Regions from separate parts of the Homo sapiens genome. Here region 2 is linked to region 1. The links come from fine-mapping of genetic effects on gene expression. A gene starts in region 1. The other region holds a variant in brackets. All regions are shown on one strand. Distances are from middle to middle.

Region 1 (4,532 bases):
CAAAACAAACAAACAAAAAAACAAACCTGTCCATTATCTTTTTTATAGAATTAGCATGAATTATATTCAGTTAATGTCTTGGACCTAAAATCTGGGACCAGCAATTTAGTTATATATTATATGCTCTTAGATAGTTATATGACCTTAAGTTTCTCTTAATTAGGAAAAAAAAAAATTCCCTCACAGGACACTTGGAGTTATCAAATATTTAGAAGTTACCTTCATCCCTACTAAATATCATCAATTGTGTTTATTCTTCTTTACAGGGACAATCATATTTCCAGTTTTGGTTGTGAGTTTCTAATGTCATTTAAAAAGAAACCTAACTGGTGAAAAATGTACCTTAGGAAATCGGTGGGTCACTTTTTAAAATAAGTACTGTAATGATTAAGAGATGTAAAAACAATCTTTTCTTCCTCCTTTTGTTTGGGGTAAAGTGATAGAGAAGTATAAGATTGTCCCTTCAGAGTTACTGAAACTTTCCTTTAAATATTATGTCCCTCTATCACATGCGAAATAACTTCTCCTTTAATTTTTAAGTAGTTATTGTTTTGGGCTCTCAACTTTTATTTTTACCTAAGTTTTGTACATTAGACAGCCTAAGTTTATTCTGTGATAAGATATATAGATCTTAAGTTTTCTATCAGCACTTCTCCACACATTATTGGGATGAACTGAAGAGGTTTACTGACCACTAGTGTGGTCTTCCCGGTAATGATTATGTAGTGATTGGATGCCATCCAGATTCCTTGGTCTGTCTGCATCTTTTCTTGAGCTTTACCTCATTATTTCCCTGTCCTGTCCACCCCAAGTTATGTTCGCTACTTGGTGAAAAGCTCTTGGCATATGGGATAGTCTCCTTTTCAAGCGTGTCATCTTGTAGTAAGAAAGCCTTGCCTGCGGCCAGTATATAAGTGGGTTTCCATATACCTGGACCAACTGAACAGCTGCCAGAATGGACTCAAGTGAGCAGAACATGAATCTAGATGATTACTATTTAATCACTGTAGCCAGTGATTGTGTATTACCAAGTAGTGAGACTGGGAGGGTGGGAATAGAAGAAGCAGTGGGATGACTACTGACATAACTTAAAAGTTAATGGGAGTATATATCCACTACTTATGAGCCTCTCATACCAATTAAGCTGTGGTGATACAAAAGAATATACTAGGCATTCCCAATCATGTTGCATCATCTAGCATTGCTCACTTAGAGCTGGGAGGAAAAAAATCAGCCAGAATCAGCATTATCAACTCCGTTGCAAGAAGGAATTACAAGACACATGATTTGAAAAGTGTAAATGTAAAAATATCAATTGAATACCCATTGACACTAAGCAAGTTTCTTTGTTTTTGAGCAACACTAATTTTGAGTACTTAAGACTGGTGCTTTACACACACCACTCCAAAAATCCACATAACCCCTGATTTGGTGTTTTCAGAAGAAAGATCAGAATAGTCTTGTCCTAGATTCCACAGCTTGTTAAGCAGCACAACTGTTATGAAAACCTTATTTCCGTACCCATGTTCTCTTCCACGAGGCTACCCTGCTTCCCCACCTCAACCCTGCTCTCCCCATCAACCTAGGTTCATCCTGGATTTGAACTTAATAATAGTGCTAATCATGAAAGTTAGGAAGAAATGGATCTTTCTTCCCTATAGGACTGAATGTAGTTACTCCAATTAAAACAGTAAAGTGAATAACTTCATGAAGTTCAAGGTTGGAATGCCATGAAGAATTATGCCCTGGGCGGCTTTACAATGGATAGGCCAATACGTCGCCACGGCTTTTAAGACTGGGAAACGGGGCACCAGGCTGGGCTTTAGAAATCGCTGGAGAAGCCTGGGTGCGGCCGCAGCCCGCGCGGCCTAGGACGGAAGCGACGCCCCGCCCCGCTCCGCGCCCCGGGCAGCCGTGTGCAGGCGCCTGCGGGCGGTATCCTCGGCGACGCCGTATGGCTTCCAGGGCGAGGCCATGTACCGGGTGCCCGAGTTTTATGCGAGGAGGAAGCGGTTAGGTGGGCAGACCCCTTACTTGATGGATGTAAGTGCAGCCTTGGTCGCCCCCATACCCGGGCTGGGCGCAAGGCGGGCCCTGCTGCCCCCAACCGGCGCCGCGCCCCTCGCCCTCCTCCAGAGGCGGGTCGTCGCCTTCGCCCCGGGCTGGCGGTTCTCAAAGACACCTGGCCATATTTGCCTAGAAAAAAAAAAAACTCTGGTGTATTTGACAGATGGTCAGAATTGAATTCTGGCTCCCTGCGCAGGTAGTTAGATATTTACGAAATCCCACCTCACCACCTCTAATTGGTTGGTTGCAAAATAGGGAGACCTACTGCGGGGGAAGCAGCCCCGCTCTGGATAGAAAGGCTGGTGGGTGCTAGCTTCCACGGTGAAAAGGGTGTACTTAACTTTTTGCCACTGCCTGTAAAGGGCAGGCTCAGTGTTGGAGCCCGGAAGTCTCCAGAACCAGACAGCTGAGGCTGTCCTGGGTATCAGTTTATTGTCTGAATTTCAATTAATTGGTAGATTGCTATGATGAGCTATATGTAGTCCCAATTTCCTTCCTATCTTTCGCCCTTCCCTTCCTCCGCTGCTTCTTTCCTCTTTTCCTACTTTCCTCCCTTCCTTTCTCCCTCTCCCTCCTTCCTGCCGTTCTACTGAAGCCACACCTAAAATCAATCAAAGCGATAAAATCCTAGCTTCAAGTTTAACGCTTTAGGATTCTACACTCTTACTGAAAGTGTAAAGAGGGACTAGTAGGAACCATTGTTTTTTGTTTCCTTCTTATTACTTAAAAGATGTGTTAGTAAGTAGGAATTATTGTTAAAGGTTTATTGTGGCATATGGATTGTAAATTGAGCTTTTAATTATTTTTGCTGCAATCATTTCGTTTTACAGCAGTTGGGATTACGATTAGGGATGTGGTACTGGAAAGATGAAACCAGAACTCTTGAATTCAGAAGGTAAAATTTAACAACACTTTATTAGAGTTTTTATAAAAATTACATGTGCCTGGGGGAAAAAAAAGCAACAGAAGAGTATAGAGAATAAATACCCACTGAACCTTTGCCATCTGGAAGGAAACAATCATTTCAGTGAACAGCCTTTCTCTGAACGCTTACCAGCTGCTTCACATGGACCAGACACTGTGCTAATGTTTACCAACTCTTTGAAACAGCTGCATGTTAACCAATTTACAGATGAAGAAACTGAGGTTTCAAAGGGTTCAGCGACTTGAGGAAAATTAAGTGACTTAGCCCAATCACACAGCTCAGAGGTGACTAAGATTATTTAAATGTAGGTCTGTTTGATTTACAGAGTCCATGTTTTTAATTATAAAATTGCCTTTTTGAGTTAGAGAAATATAGTTAACATTAATGGGAACATATTATATCTGCTGCAATAGATGGTGAATCTCACAAGGTAAAATTACTAAATTAGAAAAAACTGATTCTAATCTCTATGAAAAAAGACACTGACTCTTACAAGTGTATAGCTAAATTAATACTAGACACTATCTGTTGTGCACTGATTGTGTGCCAGATATTTGCATATTTTTCCAATTCTTAAAACAACTGTGGAAAGTGAACATTAATGTCCTCATTTTATAGATGAAGAAACAAGGCTCAGGGAGATTAAGCAACTGAACCAAAGTCATACAGCCAGTAAGTAGCAGAACTGATAGTTTGAACCAAGATTTGTCTAATGCTAAAGCCCTTTTCATGTACTCGCTGTCTCCCTCAACTAGACAGTAAGCTCCTCAGTGGCAGGAACTATCTTATTCATCCTCAGGTCTCTGGAGCCAGCTACAGAACTTCTTCAGTAGGTACTCAACAAATATTTATTGAGCATGTTCAAAGAATCTGCTAGATTCAAGCAGAGGAAGAATAGATGCAGGTGATCCATTAGAAGACTAGTTGTAGGATTACAGATAATTATACAAGTAAGCAATAGCGAGAGTTAGAATTAACTCCAGGTTGGTAAAAATAGAAAGGCAAAGGACTAAGAAATACTTAAGAGAGGATTGACAGGATGTTTGGATAGGATTGATAGGATGTGGGGATTGGATGTGAAGGGAGAGGGAAAAGCAGTTGTTTAGATTGGCTCCTAGGTGTCTGACTTGGGTGATCAGGTGGCTGGGATTGCCCTTCACCCATATACAGCATTGAAGTGACAAAACTGGTGGCTGGGTGTGGTGGCTCAAGCCTGTAATCCCAGCACTTTGGGAGGCTGAGGCGGGCAGATCACCTGAGGTCGGGAGTTTGAGACCAGCCTGGCCAACATGGTGAAATCCTATCTCTAATAAAAATACAAAAATTAGCCGGGCGTGATGGCGGGCACCTGTAATCCCAGCTACTTGGGAGGCTGAGACAGGAGAATTGCTGGAATCTGGAAAGCAGAGGTTGCAGTGAGCCAAGATTGAGCCACTGCGCTCCAGCCTGGGCGACAGAGAGAGACTCCATCTCAAAAATAAATAAATAAATAACATGACAAAACTGGCCATGTTTCAGGTTGCTATGACTTGTTCACATT
Region 2 (4,267 bases), 28 kb before region 1:
GAGACCCTGCCTCAAAAAAAAAAAAAGGAAGAAAACTTTACACTCTAAGGATAAATAAAATACCTTCTCAAATAAACCCACTGCTTCTTTATACCCTGAAATGCATGTTGAGCAACATGAGACACATTCTAACTCTATAGAATTATTGCTTCTTTGATAATTCAAGAAAAGACAAAGGCACTGATCAAACTTGTTTGGTGCCATTTCTATATAATCTAATAAGGTTGTTGTTGTTGTTGTTGTTGTTGTTGTTTTGAAACGGAGTCTCGCTCTGTCGCCCAGGCTGGAGTGCAGTGGTGCGATCTCGGCTCACTGCAAGCTCCGCCTCCCAGGTTCATGCCAGTCTCCCGCCTCAGCCTCCTGAGTAGCTGGGAATACAGGCGCCCACCACCACGCCTGGCTAATTTTTTTTGTATTTTTAGTAGAGACAAGGTTTCACTGTGTTAGCCAGGATGGTTTCGATCTCCTGACCTCGTGATCCGCCCGCCTCGGCCTCCCAAAGTGCTGGGATTACAGGTGTGAGCCACCACACCCAGCCCTAATAAGGTTTTTTTAAATTTTTATTTTTGGGATAGAGTCTCACTCTGTCACACAAGCTAGAGTACAGTGGCGTGATCATGGCTCACCACAACCTCAAAATCCTGGGCTCAAGCCATCCTCCTGCATCAGTCTCCCGAGTAGTTGGGACTGCAGGTGCATCATCATGCCTGGCTAATGTTTTTTTGTTTTGTTTTGTTTTGTTTTTAAGGCGAGATCTTGCTATGTTGCCCAGGCTTAATAGGGTTTTTAAAATAGATTATTTTAACAACACATGGCCAATCTTGTATCATCTATTGCTCCCCACACCCACCCCATTTATTTTTAAGCATATCTCAGATGTATCATTTCATCTGTAAATACTAAAGTATATATATCCAAAAGATAAGGATTCTTTTTAACACAATCAAAATACCTTTCTCACACTTAAAAAATGAGCAATAGCTCCTTAGTATTAATCATTTAATAAGTTTTTCATACTTTACAATCTAATTGTTAACTTTCAGTTTAAGTTGCTGTTTTATTTACTTTCATTACTCATATCCTTCAAGAGTTGTTTTCTTTTTTTTTTTTTCTTTTGAGACAGAGTCTTGCTCTGTCATCCAGACTGGAGTGCAGTGGCGTGACGCAACTCACTACAGCCTCTACCTGTCGGGCTCAAGTGATCCACCCACTTTAGCCTCCCAAGTAACTGGGACTACAGGTGATGCCACCACACCTGGTTAATTTTTTAAACTTTTTTGTAGAGAAGAGGTCTCACACTATTGCCCAGGCTGGTCTCAAACTCCCGAGCTCAAGCAATCCTCCTGCCTCGGTCTCCCAAAGTGTTAGGATTACAGGCGTGAGCCACTGCACTCGGCCTCCTTCAAGTATTTTTAAATTAATGTCTTTTTTTCTGTTCAAATTTAGTGTACATGTTCCCCCCAAGAGTTGTAATGAAACTAAAACTGTCTTTTGCTTTTGATGCCTTTGTTCAATATGAAAAGCCTGAATAAATGGCTGGATGTCTTCATCTTCAAATTTAAAAAATGATTCAAGTATATATTATTGAGTTTTATTAGAATGGAAAGCTCTTAATTTCTTGATTGTAATAGCAGTCATGCAAGTCACAAATCATGATAAAAGTTAATTTTGTCAAGTGCTTTTCTATATCTTGTTTGACTTTAATATTTTTGTTTTACATAGGTCTCTAATTAA[CAG/C]AAGATGGCAAAGCCCAGCCACAGCAGCTATGTCCTTCAGCAGCTAAACAACCAAAGAGAATGGGGTTTTCTCTGTGACTGCTGTATTGCAATTGATGACATTTACTTTCAAGCACACAAGGCAGTTCTAGCTGCCTGTAGCTCCTATTTTAGAATGTTTTTCATGAACCATCAGCATAGTACTGCACAACTGAATCTCAGCAACATGAAAATTAGTGCAGAATGTTTTGATCTCATTTTGCAGTTTATGTATTTAGGAAAAATTATGACAGCTCCCTCCAGTTTTGAGCAGTTTAAAGTGGCAATGAACTACCTACAGCTATACAATGTTCCTGACTGTTTAGAAGACATCCAGGATGCAGATTGTTCTAGTTCAAAATGTTCCTCTTCTGCTTCCAGCAAACAGAACAGCAAAATGATATTTGGGGTAAGAATGTATGAAGATACTGTGGCTCGAAATGGCAATGAAGCCAACAGGTGGTGTGCAGAGCCAAGTTCAACGGTAAATACACCACATAATAGAGAGGCTGATGAAGAGTCTTTACAATTAGGTAATTTTCCTGAGCCACTATTTGATGTATGTAAAAAAAGTTCCGTGTCCAAATTATCTACTCCAAAAGAACGTGTGTCAAGACGCTTTGGGCGGAGTTTTACCTGTGATAGCTGTGGATTTGGCTTTAGCTGTGAAAAATTATTAGATGAGCATGTGCTAACCTGTACTAACAGACATTTATACCAAAACACAAGATCTTACCATAGAATAGTAGATATTAGAGATGGAAAAGACAGTAACATCAAAGCTGAATTTGGTGAAAAAGATTCTTCCAAAACATTTTCTGCACAGACGGACAAATACAGAGGAGACACAAGCCAGGCTGCTGATGATTCAGCTTCAACCACTGGAAGCAGAAAAAGTAGCACAGTGGAGTCTGAAATAGCAAGCGAAGAGAAAAGCAGAGCTGCTGAGAGGAAAAGGATTATTATTAAGATGGAGCCAGAAGATATTCCTACAGATGAACTGAAAGACTTTAACATTATTAAAGTTACTGATAAAGACTGTAATGAATCCACTGACAATGATGAATTAGAAGATGAACCTGAAGAGCCATTTTATAGATACTATGTTGAAGAAGATGTCAGCATAAAAAAAAGTGGTAGGAAAACTCTAAAACCTCGAATGTCAGTAAGTGCTGATGAAAGAGGTGGTTTAGAGAATATGAGGCCCCCTAACAACAGCAGTCCAGTACAAGAGGATGCTGAAAATGCATCTTGTGAGCTGTGTGGACTTACAATAACCGAGGAGGACCTGTCATCTCATTACTTAGCCAAACACATTGAAAATATCTGTGCATGTGGTAAATGTGGACAAATACTTGTAAAGGGTAGGCAGCTTCAGGAACATGCTCAACGATGTGGCGAGCCCCAAGATCTGACCATGAATGGGTTAGGAAATACTGAGGAGAAAATGGACTTGGAAGAGAATCCTGATGAGCAGTCCGAAATAAGAGATATGTTTGTTGAAATGCTGGATGATTTTAGGGACAATCATTACCAGATAAACAGTATCCAAAAAAAGCAGTTATTTAAACATTCTGCCTGCCCTTTTCGATGTCCTAATTGTGGCCAGCGTTTTGAAACTGAAAATCTAGTGGTTGAACATATGTCTAGCTGCTTAGATCAAGATATGTTTAAGAGTGCCATCATGGAAGAAAATGAAAGAGATCACAGACGAAAGCATTTTTGTAATCTGTGTGGAAAAGGATTTTATCAGCGGTGTCACTTAAGAGAACACTATACTGTTCATACTAAGGAAAAACAGTTTGTTTGTCAAACATGTGGAAAGCAGTTTTTAAGAGAGCGTCAGTTGCGACTGCACAATGATATGCACAAAGGCATGGCCAGGTATGTCTGTTCCATTTGTGATCAAGGAAACTTCAGAAAACATGACCATGTACGGCATATGATTTCTCATTTATCTGCTGGTGAGACTATATGCCAGGTCTGCTTTCAGATATTCCCAAATAATGAACAGTTGGAGCAGCACATGGATGTTCATCTGTATACATGTGGAATATGTGGAGCAAAATTTAATTTGAGGAAAGATATGAGATCACATTATAATGCCAAGCATTTGAAAAGAACCTGAGTGATTTTCTACTGTACTAATGTTTAGATGATAGCAGATAAAACACCAAAGCAAAGGATATGAGCTATTTAGGAATTGATTATATAAGATGATTTGTTAGAAACAAATTTCAAGGCCCTTTTAACTTTAATATTTTTGTTTAGGATTTTAAGTATCTACATTTAGGTATTAAATGTTTATCATTTTTGTTGTTTCTTAATAGAATTATTTGTTTTTAGTTTTTCTTAGCTATGATTAAAATTTTTAAATGTAGACTACAAGTGGTTGTTACCCATTCAATGACTATTAAACTTTAGTTTTTCATCAATAAGGTGATGACTTCACTATTTCTATGTGTTTTTTTTTTTTTAAGGTTATCCTGTGAAATTTTAAACCCAGAATCATT

What was found. PIP is the estimated chance that this variant, and not a neighbour inherited with it, causes the effect.
Region 2: its variant is the best candidate, but not a certain one, in a credible set for the expression of PPP1R36 in whole blood (TOPMed, PIP 0.53).

The regions. Positions count from the first base shown.
Region 1 is chr14:64,548,024-64,552,555 of GRCh38, forward strand. It overlaps PPP1R36 (protein phosphatase 1 regulatory subunit 36), which reads left to right and starts at 1,938. Exons shown (of 12, transcript NM_172365.3): 1 at 1,938-2,043; 2 at 2,898-2,962. The coding sequence starts at 1,975. RefSeq lists a silencer at 1,804-2,093.
Region 2 is chr14:64,519,765-64,524,031 of GRCh38, forward strand. ZBTB1 (zinc finger and BTB domain containing 1) reads left to right here. Exons shown (of 2, transcript NM_001123329.2): 2 at 1,723-4,267. The coding sequence starts at 1,741. The coding sequence ends at 3,882. The region is part of intron 2 of HSPA2-AS1 (HSPA2 and ZBTB1 antisense RNA 1); the gene reads right to left. Among named protein-coding and RNA genes, the nearest start is that of ZBTB1, 17 kb to the left of the region's middle. The variant CAG/C (reference allele first, on the strand shown) is at 1,735.